2 separate regions of the Homo sapiens genome follow, and region 1 is linked to region 2. Evidence: fine-mapped expression QTL. Tissue or cell type: blood mononuclear cells. Region 2 holds a variant in brackets; the other region holds the start of a gene. All regions are shown on one strand. Distances are between the middles of the regions. Region 1 holds the start of WDSUB1 (WD repeat, sterile alpha motif and U-box domain containing 1). Region 2 overlaps WDSUB1 (WD repeat, sterile alpha motif and U-box domain containing 1).

The links. PIP is the estimated chance that this variant, and not a neighbour inherited with it, causes the effect.
Region 1: it holds the start of WDSUB1, and the variant in region 2 is fine-mapped to the expression of WDSUB1 in blood mononuclear cells (TOPMed, PIP above 0.99).

What each region holds. Positions count from the first base shown.
Region 1 is chr2:159,283,478-159,291,817 of GRCh38, reverse strand. WDSUB1 (WD repeat, sterile alpha motif and U-box domain containing 1) reads left to right here and starts at 5,115. Exons shown (of 11, transcript NM_001128212.3): 1 at 5,115-5,235. RefSeq lists silencers at 4,986-5,155, 4,842-5,281.
Region 2 is chr2:159,261,462-159,269,801 of GRCh38, reverse strand. The region is part of intron 5 of WDSUB1 (WD repeat, sterile alpha motif and U-box domain containing 1); the gene reads left to right. Among named protein-coding and RNA genes, the nearest start is that of WDSUB1, 21 kb to the left of the region's middle. The variant C/G (reference allele first, on the strand shown) is at 3,362.

The sequences.
Region 1 (8,340 bases), 22 kb before region 2:
CAAATACTGTATTCCAGACTATAATAGGCAGTAAACTGGAAACATAATCTGTAATTCTGTAAATTGAATTATTGTTGAATGAATTAATTTTTCCGTATCTGTAATATTTTTACCTTATGTAATAAAAACCATAAATCTGGAAACAAAAGTATTTTTTTCAGAAATGCATTAACATCTTGAATTCTCTTGAAGAACATTAATAATAGTATCTGAAAATAAAGAATTTGAGAAAATGAGACAATAAGAAAATGAAAAAATGTAAACTGCAATTTAAAATTTCATAAACAAAAGCTGGGCACGGAGTGGCTCATGCCTGTAATCCCAGCACTTTGGTGGGGGGGCCAAGGGGGGAGGATTGCTTGGGCCCAGGAGTTGAGACCAGCCTCAGCAACATAGTGAGACCCTGTCTCTATACAAATAAAAATCAAAAAATGAGCTGGGGTTTGTGTTGCACGCCTGTAGTCTCAGCTACTCAGGAGGCTGAAGTGGGAGGATCGCTTGAGCCCAGGAATTGGAAAACAAAACAAAAACAAAACCAACAAAACAAAATAAAAATTTCATAAGCAAAAAATATTTCTTGTACCATAAAGGCAGAAAAAGGCACAGTGAGAATTGCAAAAAAATTTTTTAGTGTGTACCAAATACCAAGTTTCATACATGTCATTACATTTCTTTCTGGTATTCTTACTTCCAGCCATATGCATATTTTCTGCTGTCAGGCAGTTCTCACTGTGCCCAATATACACCATCTCATCCCAACCCTCTGTTTTGTTGTTAGGCAGCCCCTGGATCTTTCTTTTTTCCTGTATGGAATTCCAGTTGTTTCTAAAGAACTCTGCTAATTCTTACTACTGGGTTGGCACACAGGGACTCTGAATGGTTTAATGAAAAGATGGCCAGTTCGAAGGTGTAAATTTTACATAGTGGCAAAGGATAAAGCAAATTAAGAGAACATTTTATGATGCAGAAGTTATCTTGCTCCCAGGCAGAGTTGCAGCTTTCCAGCTCCCCAGAGTTCTCTACAAGGAGGTGGCACTGTGGCTCATACCAGATGTGGAGAGTTGATGGTTGCATCAGATATGAGATAATCTCTGGGCAATCTGCCAGGATGTTTTTAAAAACGTCTTCTGCAGTGTAATATACACATAGAAAAAGGCAAATTTCATGCGTTCAGCTTGATATAATTTCATAAACTGAACACCTCAAGGGAGTTTTTATACCTTGAGCTCTACCTTGTCCAACTGTTCTGGAAACTCTGACATTGGGTTTGCCTGCAAAGGAAAACAACCTCAATACATGCCTGAGTATTTCCTGTGAAACTGGGTGTTTCCAAAGCTCACCCCTCAGCCGGCCTAGACTTCAGGTCTAGTTAGCACACATTCTTATGCCCACCTTTTCCAACTTCACAGGCGCCTCTCATCTCTCCGTTAAGCTCTTGTTTACTCAGGACCACATATTTTAGTAATTGGTGGCTCACTCATTGCTTCACATCTATTCGGTTCCCGTTGCCACTGTATTTTGACAACATGTATTGCTTACTATTTAATTGAAAAGTTGGGGAGGGATAGCATTAGGAGATATACCTAATGCTAAATGACGAGTTAATGGGTGCAGCACACCAACATGGCACATGTATACATATGTAACAAGCCTGCACGTTGTGCACATGTACCCTAAAACTTAAAGTATAATAATAATAAAATTAAAAAAAAAAAAAAGAAAAGTTGGTTTTTCTGGTTGGCCGCGGTGGCTCACCCCTGTAATCCCAGCACTTTGGGAGGCAGAGGCGGGCAGATCATGAGGTCAGGAATTCGAGACCATCCTGGCTAACATGGTGAAACCCCATCTCTATCAAAAATAAAAAAATTAGCCGGGCATGGTGGCTGGCACCTGCAGTCCCAGCTACTCGGGAGGCTGAGACAGGGCAATGGCGTGAACCCAGGGGTGGAGCTTGCAGTGAGCCGAGATCGCACCACTGCACTCCAGCCTGGGCGACAGAGCTTGCTCCGTCTCAAAAAAAAAAGAAAAGAAAAGGTGGTTTTTCTTTAAATACATCACTTAAAATTGTTTTCTATATTCTTCAAGTAGCATTATTTTAAGGAGCAGAACAAGAAATTAATGACAAAATGGGATTTTTATCCTTAAATAAGATTTTCTTTTTTTTGAAGACACAGTCTCACTCTGTTGCCAAGGTTGGAGTGCAGTGGCTCGATCTCGGCTCACTGCAACCTCTGCCTCCCGGGTTCAAGAAATTCTCCTGCCTCAGCCTCCTCAGTAGTGGGTATTATAGGTGTGCACCACCACGCCTGGCTAATTTTTGTATTTTTAGTAGAGACGGGGTTTCACCACGTTGGCCAGGCTGGTCTTGAACTCCTGACCTCAAATGATCTGCCCACCTTGGCCTCCCAAAGTGCTGTGATTACAGGTGTGAGCCACCGCACCCAGCCTTAAATAAGATTTTCACAGCTACACAATTAGGGTGAGGAATGCATAAAACATTCAAATCTTTAATATTCCAAATCAAAGGTCTAACTACTTTGGGAGATGTTAACTAAAATATCTTGCCAATATACTATAGAAACAGAATTTATAAAGATACATTTATAAGAATTTATAGATTTGTAGAGTGAACTGGTACAGGACAGAGTGTTAAAGTAGTTAGATCTCTGGAGACCAGCCTCAATGAGGCTTCTATCTTTGAAACTGCCTGTCTCTGTAGGACAGGCAAAGCTGACTATACTGGACATGAGGTCATGGTGCTAAACTACTGGCAGGTGTAGTCACGGGCTTCTTTTATATATTTTACTTAAAGAATATTATAACCAATTTGGCTTATCAAATTAGTGTAGATAGAGGCTGAGGCGGGTGGATAACTTGAGGTCAGGAGTTCGAGACCAGCCTGGCCAACATGGTGAAACCCTGTTTCTACTAAAAATACATAAAGTCAGCCGGGCGCGGTGGCGGGCGCCTGTAATCCCAGCTACTTGGGAGTCTGAGGCACGAGAATCACTTGAACCTGGGAGGTAGAGGTTGCAATGAGCCAAGATCCTGCCACTGCATTCCAGCCTGGGCGACAGAGCAAGACTCCATCTCACAAACAAACAAAAAAACCCACACACAAATTAGTGTAGATAAAAAAGGTATCCCTCAAGTTTGACAAGAAAGTGGAGAGACAAACACAACTACATATTGCTGAGAGTGTAAACTGTACAACCTCTCTGAAGAGCAGTATGGTAATACTTATTAAAACTGTCTACACCTTTATGCCCAGTGATTCCATTTCCTTTTTTTTCTTTTGTGAGACAAAGTCTCACTCTATCCCCCAGACTGGAAGTGGAATGGGGAGATCTCTGCCCACTGCAACCTCAGCCTCCTGGGTTCAAGAGATTCTCCTGTCTCAGCCTCCTGAGTAGCTGGGATTACAGGTGCGTGCCACCATGCCTGGCTAATTTTTTTCTATTTTTAGTAGAGATGGGGTTTCACCACGTTGGCCAGGCTGGTCTTGAACTCCTGACCTCAGGTGATCCACCCAGCTTGGCCTCCCAAAGTGCTGGGATTACAGGCGTGAGCCACCGCACCTGGCCTCCATTTCAATTTTTATCCTAAGTACATATTCATAAATATGGAAAAAGATTTATGTACATAACGTGGTAATATATTGAGGCTAAAAGAAAAAGATTTAGGTACAAAGATATTTAATCCAGCATTATCTACACTAAGATCAAAATTGTTGAAACCATCCAGCAACAGGGAAAATGTTAAATAATTTATGGTATGTTTATATGTAGACCATTATGTAGAAAAAAAAGCTAATGAAATTTTAGACATGGGAACAGCTCATGACACAAGTTTGTTTAAAAAGGCAGTTTCCAGGACTTTTTGTAAAATTAGTTTTTCTGAAAGACTGAGAGAAAATGTTATCTCTGAGTGGGTGATCTCTGAGGGGTGTAATTATTGACTATTTATTTTCCTGTTATATATTCTGTGTTTCCTACAGAGAGCTCTATTATTTATACAATCAAAAACTTGTTTTTAGAAAAATACTGTTTTGGCAATACTTTGGAATGGAATTTGGTGTTCAAAGTCTCAATCATGATGCACTCCGCTAATTTTAAAAAATTAACAAGAACTTCACAAAATCCTAATTTTTAATCTTCCCTTTCCCCTTAATCTTTTTCATTGCAAATAGTTTCCCACGGTCTCAATTTCATCTTTAAATGTGAGCATTTTAGGTCATTACTCTTCAAATGTAACTTCGGTCTCCACAGGCTGATATATTTTTAATGTTTCCTCATGGATTAAAAATAAAAGCTCTCTGTATCTTTGATTTTCATCTGAACATAGTCCCACACTATGTTGTGCATTTAGTTAACAAGTGGTAATTTGCTCAGGAACTTTTTTTTTTCTGGATAATTTTTATCTCAAAAAGCACTGGCAGGGCCACTTTGTAGTCAATGACACGTGGAAACCAGTCTACCGTGAGCCAGTGGGACGCACTGGGAAAGGCTGAAGAAAAGGCGCCCGGGGTTCCAGTGAGCTCAGGATACCCACCCAACGGCAGGGCTGGGGCCCGGGGCAGGCAGCCTGCCCGGGAGAGACCCCTAGGGGAACCCGAATGAGGAGGCGAGGGCAGAAGACGCCAAGTCACGGACCGCCCAGGGTGGCCGAAATAGAGAAGGCCAATCTGGGAGACCGGCCTCGGAGTACACAGTGCAGGGTGGAGAACTGGAGAAAGAGGTAAAAACTTTCAGCAGGGATGGCCGAACATTCCATGCAACGCCCCTTTAAAACGACGTTTCAGGCGATCACTAGGCCTTGCGACCGCAGCTTTAGCAAAAACAGAAAGATTTGCGACGGAAGTCCCTTTCCAAGCCTGAAATCGCCTTGACCCTAGGAGCCAGAAGCTGGGGAGGAACTCGCAGTCCGGGCGGAAGAGCGCGCATGCGCCGCCTCAGGGGCCGGTCCCGGGGGCGGGGCCTGTTCCCTCCGCCCTGGGTCTCCACAGGCTTTCGCGGGGCGGGGCCTACTCCCTCCGCTCTGGGTCACAGCGGGCGTTCGGGGGGCGGGGCCTGTTCCCTCCGCTCTGGGTCCCCGCGGGCGTTCGGGGGCGGGGCCTGTTCCCTCTGCTCTGGGTCTCCGCCGGCGCCCGCCCCGCCAGCCTCACCTGCGCGGCACGTGACCCGCACCGCCCGTGGGCACCTTGAAGGCGGATCCCGCGCGCCCCCGCTCCTGCAGGTGAGAGCGGCCGCGCCCACGGGCCGGCTCAGCGGCGGTGGCGGCAGGTGGGGAAGCGCGGCTGGGCCTGCTCGCGCGGGGCGTCTGAGCCCTCCATTTCCCGGTTCTAACCGCGCAGCAGGGCCCAACCGGGACCTTGAGTGCGGCGAGGCGTGGTTCGTGCACCCTTGGCCCGGGGCTAGGGCGGGCGTGTCGGCGTCGGGTGGAAGGAAGCCCCTTGCGGGTGAGCTCCCTGCCTCCCAGGCCTCCCTCTTGCCTGGGGTCGCTCAGTCCACAGAGGCCCGGCCGCTCATAGAGGGGGGCACATTCCTGGTCTTTCGTGCATGGGGGGTGTAAGTGGCGGACTTTATTTTGGGAGCGCTGGACACCTTTCGGGTTTGCTTTGAATGAGATGGGATTCATGTGTTTACGCTGGCCAACTGACCTGGTGTGCCCGGGAATTTACTGTTCGCGTGACAGCCGAGGCCCGAGGGAACGCCCACACCGCCCCCCCTACCCCAAGGCAGGTCCTGGGTAGGCCTGAGAGCTTTTTCAAAACAAACTGTTCAGCTGACGGTGGCCTCGGTACTTCCCACTGAATGCCCTGGAACTTGCAAAGGGAGCTGAGTGCGGCAGAGGGCTGGGAGCCGGAGTTTGTTTGGAAAATCACCTGTGCGCACTTGCACAGCTGGGATTTGCGAGCTCTCCAGAAAGCACCACCTGGTCTTGATTGTTTTCAAGACAGCAGTACAGGGATAGTCTACCAGAAATTTTCGTGTTTGGTTTTTAGGCTTTATTGGAGTTTATGTTCGAAGAAAAGAAGCTGAACTTATCCTAAAAGGATAAGATGAAGATAGGGAAAGGCATGCTCCTTATGCCTTAATATTTGTTTGATTGATTGATGGGGTCCTGCTCTGTTGCCCAGGCTAGAGTGCAGTGGTGCAATCACAGCTCACCGCCGGCGTCACCTCCGGGGCTCAAGTGATGCTCCCGCCTCAGCTTCTCGAGTAGCTGGGACTACAGGTGCTCGCCACCACACCCAGCTAATTATTTTTATTTTTAGAGAGATGGGGTCTTGCCTTGTTGCCCAGACTGGTCTTAAACTCTTGGGCTCAAGTGTTCCACCCATCTCGGCCTCCCAAAATGCTGGGACTACAGGTGTGCACCATCGCGCCCAGACTTTTTTTTTCTTTGGTAGAGGTGTTTCCGTAAATAAGACTAGGACAAAGGATTATCAATTTTACAAGTCAAGGTTATACCTGCCCCTTTCAGAGCTGATTCTGCCTCACTTGACACCAGTTTTCCACCGTCAGTTATGTTTCTGTGTGTGTATATATATTTAGTCTTGGTAGATTTTCTAATTTCATATTACATATGGATTATTTAAAGGCTGGAACTCAGTTGGGCTCGAACAAAATAAATATTCAACTTATATTTATTTAAGTACATTAGGTGCCTGACAGTTTTACATGGTGTGGATACAGAAATGAGCAAGATGGCAAAGTACCTACTCCTTTGGGATTTACATCCTAGTCGGAGGAGACAATTTAACAAATATCCGATGCTGGTGGTAATTGCTGAGAATATAGAGTGATGTGCTAGCCTAGGGAGTGGCTACTTTAAATAGGGAAACCGTCTCTGAGGAGAGACACTGAAATTGAGATCTAAATGACAAATAGGATCCCAAGAGCAGAGGCAAGAACATTTCAGCTTGAGAAAACCGCTTTATGGAGACGGAAGACTGTTAGGCCAAGGAGGCTGGAAAGAAGAGAGGGACAGTGGCCAGAGTTGAGATCTGAGAAGTGGGCAGGCGGGAATTATATAGGATTTTGATTACATAAGACTGTATAGGATTTTGTTTGCCATGATGAGTTTGATTTTATTCTAAATTTGTAAATTTGTTCTTGAGCGTGGTCTGGCTAAGTTCATTTTTTGACACTTTCTTAGGTTTTCTTTTCTTGGTTTCCTTGATTCATTCAGAGGTGGTTCCTCACCTCAAGTCTTTTGTATAATTTTACTATTTATCAGACAGGATGACAAACCATGATAGGACAGCTTTCAACATGGTCACTTATTAATAAATTTTCAATGAGACTTTTGTTGTTTTTTTTTAAGAGCAAATCCTACAGTTTGATTTTAAAGGCGGAGCAGATAGCCTTGGCTCCATCCTGTGAAGGGAACAGCTAAGATAGTTTATTAGAATAGAAAATACTTTTTGAGTTGAGATGAGCAGATCTGGAGTGAGGTATTTTTGAGAACTCCTTATGAGAAAGGCTTCAAAGGTGAAATAAACACCTTAGGTTTTGAAAGCTCAACATCAAATCAGTTTGAAGTTATTTGACAGTTTGAAGGTTCTTTTTGAGGAGTTGTGGAAATTTATTGGTATGACAACGGTGGTTGTGAGAATCAGAGGTTATAGTCTTATAGATTTTTTTTTCTCCAAATTGTTCTTATCCCAGGTAACAGGTTGTCCTTTAAAACAGAGCTCCCTTGGCCGGGTACGGTGGCTCACGCTGGTTATCCCAGCACTTTGGGAGGCTGAGGTGGGCGGATCACTTGAGGCCAGGAGTTCAAGACCTGGCCAACATGGGGAAACCCGGTCTCTACTAAAAATACAAAAAATTAGCCGGGCGTGGTGGGACATGCCTGTAATCCCAGCTACTTGGGAGGCTGAGGTGGGAGAATCACTTGAACCCGCGAGGCGGGAGTTGCAGTGACCTGAGAACATGCCACTGCACTCAAGCTTGGATGACAGAGGGAGATCCTGTCTCAACAAAACAAAACAAAAACAAAACATAGATCCCCAACCCCCAGGGCCGAGGACTGGTACCCATCATGGCCTGTTAGGAACTGGGCTGCACAGCAGGAGGTGAGGGCATGAGTGAGCTCCACCTCTTGTCAGATCAGCTGCAGTGTTAGATTTTTTTTCTTTTTTTTTTTTTGAAGGCGGAGCAGATAGCCTTGGCTCCATCCTGTGAAGGGAACAGCTAAGATAGTTTATTAGAATAGAAAATACTCTATTTTCTAGAACTCTAGAGATGGAGTTTCGCTCTGTCACCCAAGCTGGAGTGCAGTGGCACGATATCAGCTCACTGCAACCTCCTCCTCCCTTCAAGGGATTCTTCT
Region 2 (8,340 bases):
ATCAGATGATTTTTCCTACATCTTTGAGATGATACAATTTTTCTCTGTTACTCTGTTAGTGGAGTGAATTACAAGATTTTTAAATGTTAAACCAACCTTGCTTTGTTGGAACAAACAAATTTTAGGGTATATTATTGTTGTGTATTGCTATAGAAAAGTTAGTTTCATTCTAACTGTTGTTCCTTTGGATGTAATTCATGTGTTTTTCTCTGGCTGCTCATGAAATTTTCTGTTTTGAGGTTTTTGCATATCCACTTTGTATCTACATATGAGTTTCCTATTTAGTTTGCTTGGAATTCATTGAACTTCTTAAATCCTTGGAATGATATTGGGCAGGGCGTGGTGGTTCATGCCTGTAATCCCAGCACTTTGGGAGGCAGAGGCAGGCCTATCACTTGAGCTCAGGAGTTCAAGACCAGCCTGGCTAACATGGTGAAACCTCATCTCTACTAAAAATACAAAAATTAGCCAGGCATGATGGTGGGCACCTGTAATTCCAGCTACTCAGGAGGCTGAGGCAGGAGAGTTGCTTGAACCCAAGAGGTGGAGGTTGCAGTGAGCTGAGATCACACCACTGCACTCCAGCCTGGGTGACAGAGCAAGACTCCATCTCAAAAAAAAAAAAAAAAAAAAAAATCTGTGGAAAGATATTTTACCACTTTTGGAAAATTCTTATTTATTATCTCTTCAAGTATTGCCTCTGTTCCTTTCTTTCTGTCCTCTAATTCTGGGATTCCAATTAAAGGCACATTACACCTCACTGTAAACTTTATTCTCTCTTTTGTATTTATGCTTCTGTTTTGTTTGTTTGTTTGTTTTTTCCTGTTTCCTATGCTTCATTCTGGATGGTTTTCCCTTTCCTTTCTTCAGCTAATATATTAAACTGGTCCATTGAATTCTTAATTTTGCTTATTTTATTTTTTGGTCCTAGAATTCCTATTTGGCAATTTTTTTCAGTGGTGTCACTTTTTATGATTTCCAGTTCTGTGTTGAAGTTGTCAACCTTGGCTTTTATTTTTCAAAGCTTTATTCTGTTAGGCAATGGGCTGGAACATCGTTTCATGATTCAATTACTTTATACTCTTTTCCTTTTGAATACTTTTGTATATTTTCTCCTTGCCATTAGATTTTCTAAAACTTTCCTGTCTGATCTCACAGGTCATAGCATTCTGACCCACATTTATGGCTCTTCATAGCAACTTTCATTCCAGCTAAGATATTTAGGCTCCTAACCTCCATTTAGAATGTCTGGACTAAGGCTGATGGTTCTTTTTTTCCATATGCTCCAATTCTTGCCAAACAGCCAAATTACTAGTTATGTTGTTGTCATTATTGTAGATGTGGCTGTTTGATCTCTAAAGATGAAGATTATTCATCATCAAAAAGTATTTATAGTAATTGTCTTTTGACCTAGAATTTAAATCATTGGAAAGTTTAAACAAATAAAGTTGAACTCTGTCTGCTGTGTTAGGGGACAGGTTAGCTGACAGAATGATTATGTGCCCAGCTCTCTGCCAGTTGGAATAGGGCATAGAAAAGGAAGTATAAGACAGTGTTTGTGCTCTTGAAGACATTTTAAATCCCCTCTTTTCTATTTAGTAGTTGATGTTCATAGTGATGAACTAATAACACTGCAAGACCCTGACATGTACTTATCCTCTGAGTCATGGAGGAAGTGTTAAGTGATACTCAATATTGTGTTAAGTTCATTTTATAGCGGTATAATTCTTTGCCAGTTTGTATATATGTGTGTCTTAGTTAACATTGTATTTATGGAAATGTGTCTTTCCCAATCATTCTGGATAAATGGAAGTTTACATTATCAAGTGCTTTTGGGTATATGGTGTTGCTCAAGGTCACATTCAAATATTTTTCTGAATATTTCTAGTTTATTTGGACAAATATACAGGCAAATGAATGAGAAATGTAAATTAATAAACTTAATAAACATTTAGTTTTTAGAAGAATTGACAGGCATATTTAAATCATACTTAGTAGATAAAAATAGGTCAATTAGTTAATGATAGATTCTATTTGTGACTAAAAGTCAATGATAAGATAGAATGAATACGTATGGGAAAGAGGGAGACTAAAAAAAGTGAGTAGGATAAAACGAGGCTGTATATGAATATAAGTGGCTAGAGATGAAAAGTGAATGGACAGCAGAATGTGGTTGTAGGTCAGTATTGTGTACTAAGGGCTGGGTGTGGAGCTCATGCCTGTTATTCCAACACTTTGAGAGGTCAAAGCAGAAGGATCACTTGAGGCCAGGAGTTTGAGACCAGCCTGGACAACACAGTGAGACCCAGTCCCTACAAAAAAAAATTAAAGAAATTAGCTGGGCATAGGGGTGTGTGCCTGTAGTCTCAGCTACTTGGGAGGCTGAGGCAGGAGAATCCCCTGAGCCCAGGAGTTTGAGGCTGCAGCAACCTATGATCATGCCACTGCACTCCAGCCTGGGCAACAAAGTCAGAACTTGTCTCTTTAAAAAAAAAAAAAGAAAGAAAAAAGAGGTGTACTAATGAAGGTGTGTATGGCATAGATAGGGGTGGCCTTGGAAAAGGCAGTATAGAATTTCTATGCAGATATGGGAAGATTGAGGAACAGAAAGAGCATTCCAGGAGGCAGGAAATTCTTGAGTAGATCAAAATGTATAATAAACATTCAAATAAATAAGGAGAAATGAGGCCAGAAAAACAGATTGTAGAGATAACAGAGAACCTAGGATGGACCGGGCATGGTGGCTCATGCCTGTAATCCCACCACTTTGGGAGGCTGAGGCAGGAGGATCACTTGCGCCCAGGAGTTTGAGACCAGCCTGGGCAACATAGGAAGACCTGGTCTCTACAAATAATAAAAAGTTACCCAAGCATGGTGGCTTGCACCTGTGGTCCTAGCTCCTCAGGAGGCTGAGGTGGGAGGATCGCTTGAGCCTAGGCAGTGGAGGCTGCAGTGAGCCACAATCGTGCCACTAAACTCCAGCCTAGGCAACAGAGTGAAACCCTGACTCAAAACAAAAAACAACAAAAAAACCCCTGAGAACCTAGGATGGTGTTAGAACTTGTTCAAACCTTATATATTAAATTTAGGAGAACTTCTGAAACTTCTAAAGCAATTCTAACATGCAAAGCCTAGCTATAGGAGACTAGTGTCTAGAGATGAATATAAGTGGCTAGAGATGAAAAGTGAATGGACAACAGAATGCGGTTATAGGTCAGAATAGAGAAGTGAAGAATTGAATCATGATTTAGGTCAGTGGTTCTTATACTTTTTGGTCTTAAGATTCCTTCACATTCTTAAAAGTAAGATTCCTTGGCCAGGCGCGGTGGCTCACGCCTGTAATCCCAGCACTTTGGGAGGC[C/G]GAGGCGGGCGGATCATGAGGTCAGGAGATCAAGACCATCCTGGCTAACATGGTGAAACCCCATCTGTACTAAAAATACAAAAAATTAGCCGGGCGTTGTGGCGGGTGCCTGTAGTCCCAGCTACTCGGGAGGCTGAGGCAGGAGAGTGGCGTGAACCCGGGAGGCGGTGCTTGCGGTGAGTCCAGATCGTGCCACCACACTCCAGCCTGGGCGACAGAGCAAGACTCTGTCTCAAAAAAAAAGTAAGGTTCCTTGACACTCTTAAAAGTTATTACCCTAAAGAGCTTTTGCTTATATGGGTTACATCTATCACTATTTATAATACTAGAAAATACAATCGAGAATATTCTGAAATATTTTAAATTCATTTAAAAGCAATAGATTATTGCATATTAGCTTTTTGAGGAAAAAATAAATAGTGAAAAGAGTGGCATTGTTCTACATTTTTGAAGATCTTTTTAATGTCTGGCATAGCAGAAGACAGCTGGATTTTCACATCTGCTTCACATATTCCACCAGCCCTCAGAGCTGTGATGGCGTTACAGGTCCTGTAGCAAAATACGCAAGAGGTTTTTCCCTTGGTCTTTCTCCACTTCTGTCCCCTAATAACTTTGCTCCAGCCCCTTAGCAGAATTTGTCTTTTGTTCCACCCTACTTCTCTTGATCTAGCCAGATACAACAAACATTATATATATCAGCCGCTGTTAAAACAGGAAGAGTCAGTCTTTTTTTTGGGACAGGGTCTCCTCTGTCACCCAGGCTGGAGTGTGATGGCACTATCATGGCTTACTGCAGCCCTGACCTCCTGGCCTCAAGTGATCCTCCCACCTCAGTCTCCTGAGTAGCTGGGACTACACTTGCAGGCCACCATGCTTGGCTAAGTTTTGTATTTTTTGTAGAGTCAGGGATCTCATTCCTGGGCTCAAGTGATCCTCCCACCTTGGCCTCCCAAAGTGTTGGGATTACAGGCATGAGTCACCACACCTAGCCGGGTCAGTCTTTGTAATTCAAATAAAGTCTGCCTGTTTCCAGAAGGTCTCAGAGTTTAGGATTCCTTGGAAATGAGTTTTTAAAATGCCCACAGTTGTGTGTGAGAGACAGGAAGAAAAGAGAGAGAGTGAGTGTGTGTGTGTGTGTGTGTGTGTGGTGTGTGTGCTTGCTTTAGAGATAAGGCCTCACTCCATTACCCAGGCTGGAGTGGCTCACTGGAGCCTTGACTTCCTGGGCTCAAACAGTCATCCCACTTCAGCCTCTCAAGTAGCTGGAACTATAGGTGTGTGCAACCAGGCCCAGCCAGTTAGGAGTTGTTTTTTTTTGTTGTTGTTGTTGTTGTTGTTTTATTTTTTTTTTTTTTTGAGATGGAGTTTCGCTCTTGTTACCCAGTCTGGACTGCAATGGCGCGATCTCAGCTCACTGCAACCTCTGCCTTCCAGGTTCAAGTGCTTCTCCTGCGTCAGCCTCCCAAGTAGCTGGGATTACAGGTGCCCGCGACCATGCCTGGCTAATTTTTGTATTTTTAGTAGAGACAGGGTTTCACCATGTTGGCCAGGCTGGTCTCGAACTCCTGACCTCAGGTGATCCGCCTACCTCAGCCTCCCAAAGTGCTGTGATTAGAAATGTGAACCACTGCGCCTGGCCCTTTTCCTTTTCTTGAGTTGAAAACCAATGAGAGGGCAATACGGGACTGGGTAACATGACTTTTGATCGGCAACCCACTTGCCCACCTGCTCTTGGGCAGCATGGACCACTGCAGTCTTCCCCTGCCAGTGCAGATCAGAAAAAAGAGAAAATCCAGAAGGGGCTCAGCTCCATGGCCCAGCGCTTGCCCCACACTCTCCAGTTATTTGTCATTTATTTTCCGCTAGGCATGAGAGGGAGGAAAGAGGCCAAGAATCTTACCCCAGAAGGGGTGGGAAATAGGTTTCTCCTCTCCCCAACAAGACAGTTGTTTATATTTTATCTATTTTGTAAGTAAATGATAGAGTTTATTGTCACGAGTTAGGAGTGCTTTCATGAACAGCCCCCTCTTGCTCAGCAATGACTAGCTGAAGAAGGCTTAACGTTATCTTTCCCAAAATGCAAATCATGTTTTTTCTCTACAATATTGCTAACAGTCCTGTTGAACAAGTAAGTTCATTTAGTAACTGAAAAGGACACGTTGCCATCTGTGTATCACGGAGGGTTATCAGATGCTAGATTGCTTGAAAGTAGATGTCTTCTGAGAGCTTTAGTGAAATTTGAATAGCCACACCATCACTTTTCAAGTTTTTAGGCTGAAATCATCAGAGTATGTGCCTGTGTTGAATCAATTTTGATACATTGGGGGAAGATATTTTAGCAAGCATAATATTAAAAAACATGGGTTTTAGAATTACACAGAACTGGGTTTTAACCCCAGCCTTGCCACTTAACTAGCTGCAGGACCTTGAACAAGTTCTGGTTCCGTGTCTTCTCCCAGCTTCATGTTCTGACTATAAAATGGAGAATGTAATAGCACTTTCCTCATAACATTGTTATGAAGATTAAGAAAATGCAGATAAAGCATTTATTATGTTTGGGACATCACTGCTCAATACATATATATTAAATAGTACATAAAATAATAGATATAATTTATGTAATCCAGAACACCAATTATATAACGTATTTTACCCCATTTTTCTGAATTGAGCTATTAGCCATTAGCTTACAGTAAGCAGCATTACAGAACAGCTCTTTGAAACTTATTTTCATTCAGGAAGAGTTGTTGAGGACTCGGTTTATGTTTCATAGCATCCTCCTCTAAAGGCCTTGGGGAAAGTGGTCCTGTCAGGTCTCAGTCTGAGGGCTTCATGTCCTTTTTCCCCAAGCATTGGGTTTGTGTTTCTATTTTACATTGCATAACTGGTCATATTTCCTTTTTGCATTGCTACTGAAGAAGCTCAGAATCAAACTTGCAACCTTTCTTTGGCAAAGTGGACAGGACCTATGACACGTGTTTTTGATATTAATCTATATTAATCTTCACCTTCATTCTCTCCCCTCACCTCATTCTTACGTTCTCTTCCCCTTCAGGTTCTTCACATAACTTTTGTTTTTGCTCTATCTTTGTAAGAGACTGCAAATCCTTTCTAAATGAGAAGAAACATAAATACATTTAAAATTAAAATACTGAAGTGTAAAATCTTTAAATGTTAGCAACATACTTGGGCTCAGGAAATAATTGCTAGTGATTGTATTTGATTAGTTTTTTGGCCATTGTACAAAGTTAGTTTTGAGATGGGTCACTGCGATGTCACGGATCTCGAGGAGTCTGTGATTACACCACGTCCATGTCAAGCACATAGCTATGTGTTGTTGATGTTGTCCAGTAGCTGTCTAGATATAATTGACGGGTTTCTCTTGTATTCTTGAGTGAGCAGAGCTGAGGTTTTAGAGCACCACAAAACTGTAGGAATGGAGTATCAAAAGGTTGAATACCTGCCTCATGAGGAAACTGGGGGAAAGATGACAGGGCAGATTGTGGCAGAATGTATGTACTGAAAATTTGGGGGAGGAACTATAGCAGGAAGAAAATACATAACCAGGGACACCAAACAGTTGGATTTTTTGTTTAGTGGTTGTTGATTTGGCTTCAATTTAGGGAATATTTTGAGGGTTTTTATTGCTTCAGTAGTTTCAAACTATTTTGTGTCTATGTAAGTTGGCTTTTATTCTCCTGATCTCTCAAACTCAAATCTCAAAATATTGAAAACTTCTGTTATTTTTCCCTAACCCTAATTTACCTTCCTCAAAATCTAATGAATTATCAAATCCTATTGCATCTTCCTTGGAATCATCATTAGTTAAACTAAAGGCAATAGGAAGTGAGTTTAAAATCCTTTCTTCCAGAGCCTGCAGGTCTGTTCATGTGTTTATAATTTTCGTTTTTTGTTTTTTTTTCCATGGATTCAGTGGTCTCCTACTGGTTTATTCATGTTTGGCCTTGCGCTTCTCAAATTCCTTTTTATACCTCATCAGCAAGTGAACTTATTCCACTGCCCTCATGGCTAGCTGTGGCCTGTGAAATCGTCCAGATTCCTTGGGCAGACACTCAGGGTGCTTTGTATTTTTGTTCGGGGCTGTGTTTTCAGCCTTACTGCTTGCCGTTCCCATATGTGGACTCTTGCCTGTCGCACTGATTTCTGTCTTCCCAATCCAATGCTCATAGAGATCACTAAGGATAATCCTGCTTATTAAGTGATGAGTTGGTTTGAATTGTCTCTGGTGGTAGTCTAGGAAAGTGGGATTTCTTTTTAATTTTGGGGTTTTGTTTTTGATTTGTGGTACCAATGAGGATTTTATTTGAGACAGTGTAATGGGGGCCAGATGAGAGAACCATTTTCTTTGTAAGCTTAGCATGGCTGGGCTCTAGCCAGCTCCAGATGAAATTTTGGCTAATTATCCCTTTAGAAAAGTCAGGCTTAAGCAGAACTGGGCTCTAGGTCAATTAACCAAAAGCCAGTTCACCCAATGACCAGTTCATTTATTTAAAAAAAAAAAAAAAAAAAAAAAAAAAAAAAAATATATATATATATATATATATATATATATATATATATATATATATATATGAGTTTCAGTTGACCAGTTTTCCTTTCATCTCATCATATAATCTTGAAAAGTAATATTTAACATGCTCCTGACCCCCAGCCATGTAGCTATAGCTGGAGACCTGGTTTTCTTAGCTGTTATGAAAGTATTTTTGTGTGTGTGTGGATACTTTTTCAAATTGATGTCCCTGTGAGGGGACAAGCATGGGAAGTTATACTCTGCCATCTTGCTGACATCACTCTTTAGTTGTGTGTGTGTTTTAAGGATGCTCAAAATAGCAGAATTTGGCCTAAGAATTTCAGATATTTCACAAATAAGAACTTGTACCTTGAAGAACTTAGGATTAAATAAAAGTGTCTGTAAATTATGTCCATCACATACATACTCACGTAGTGTTAGCTGTCAA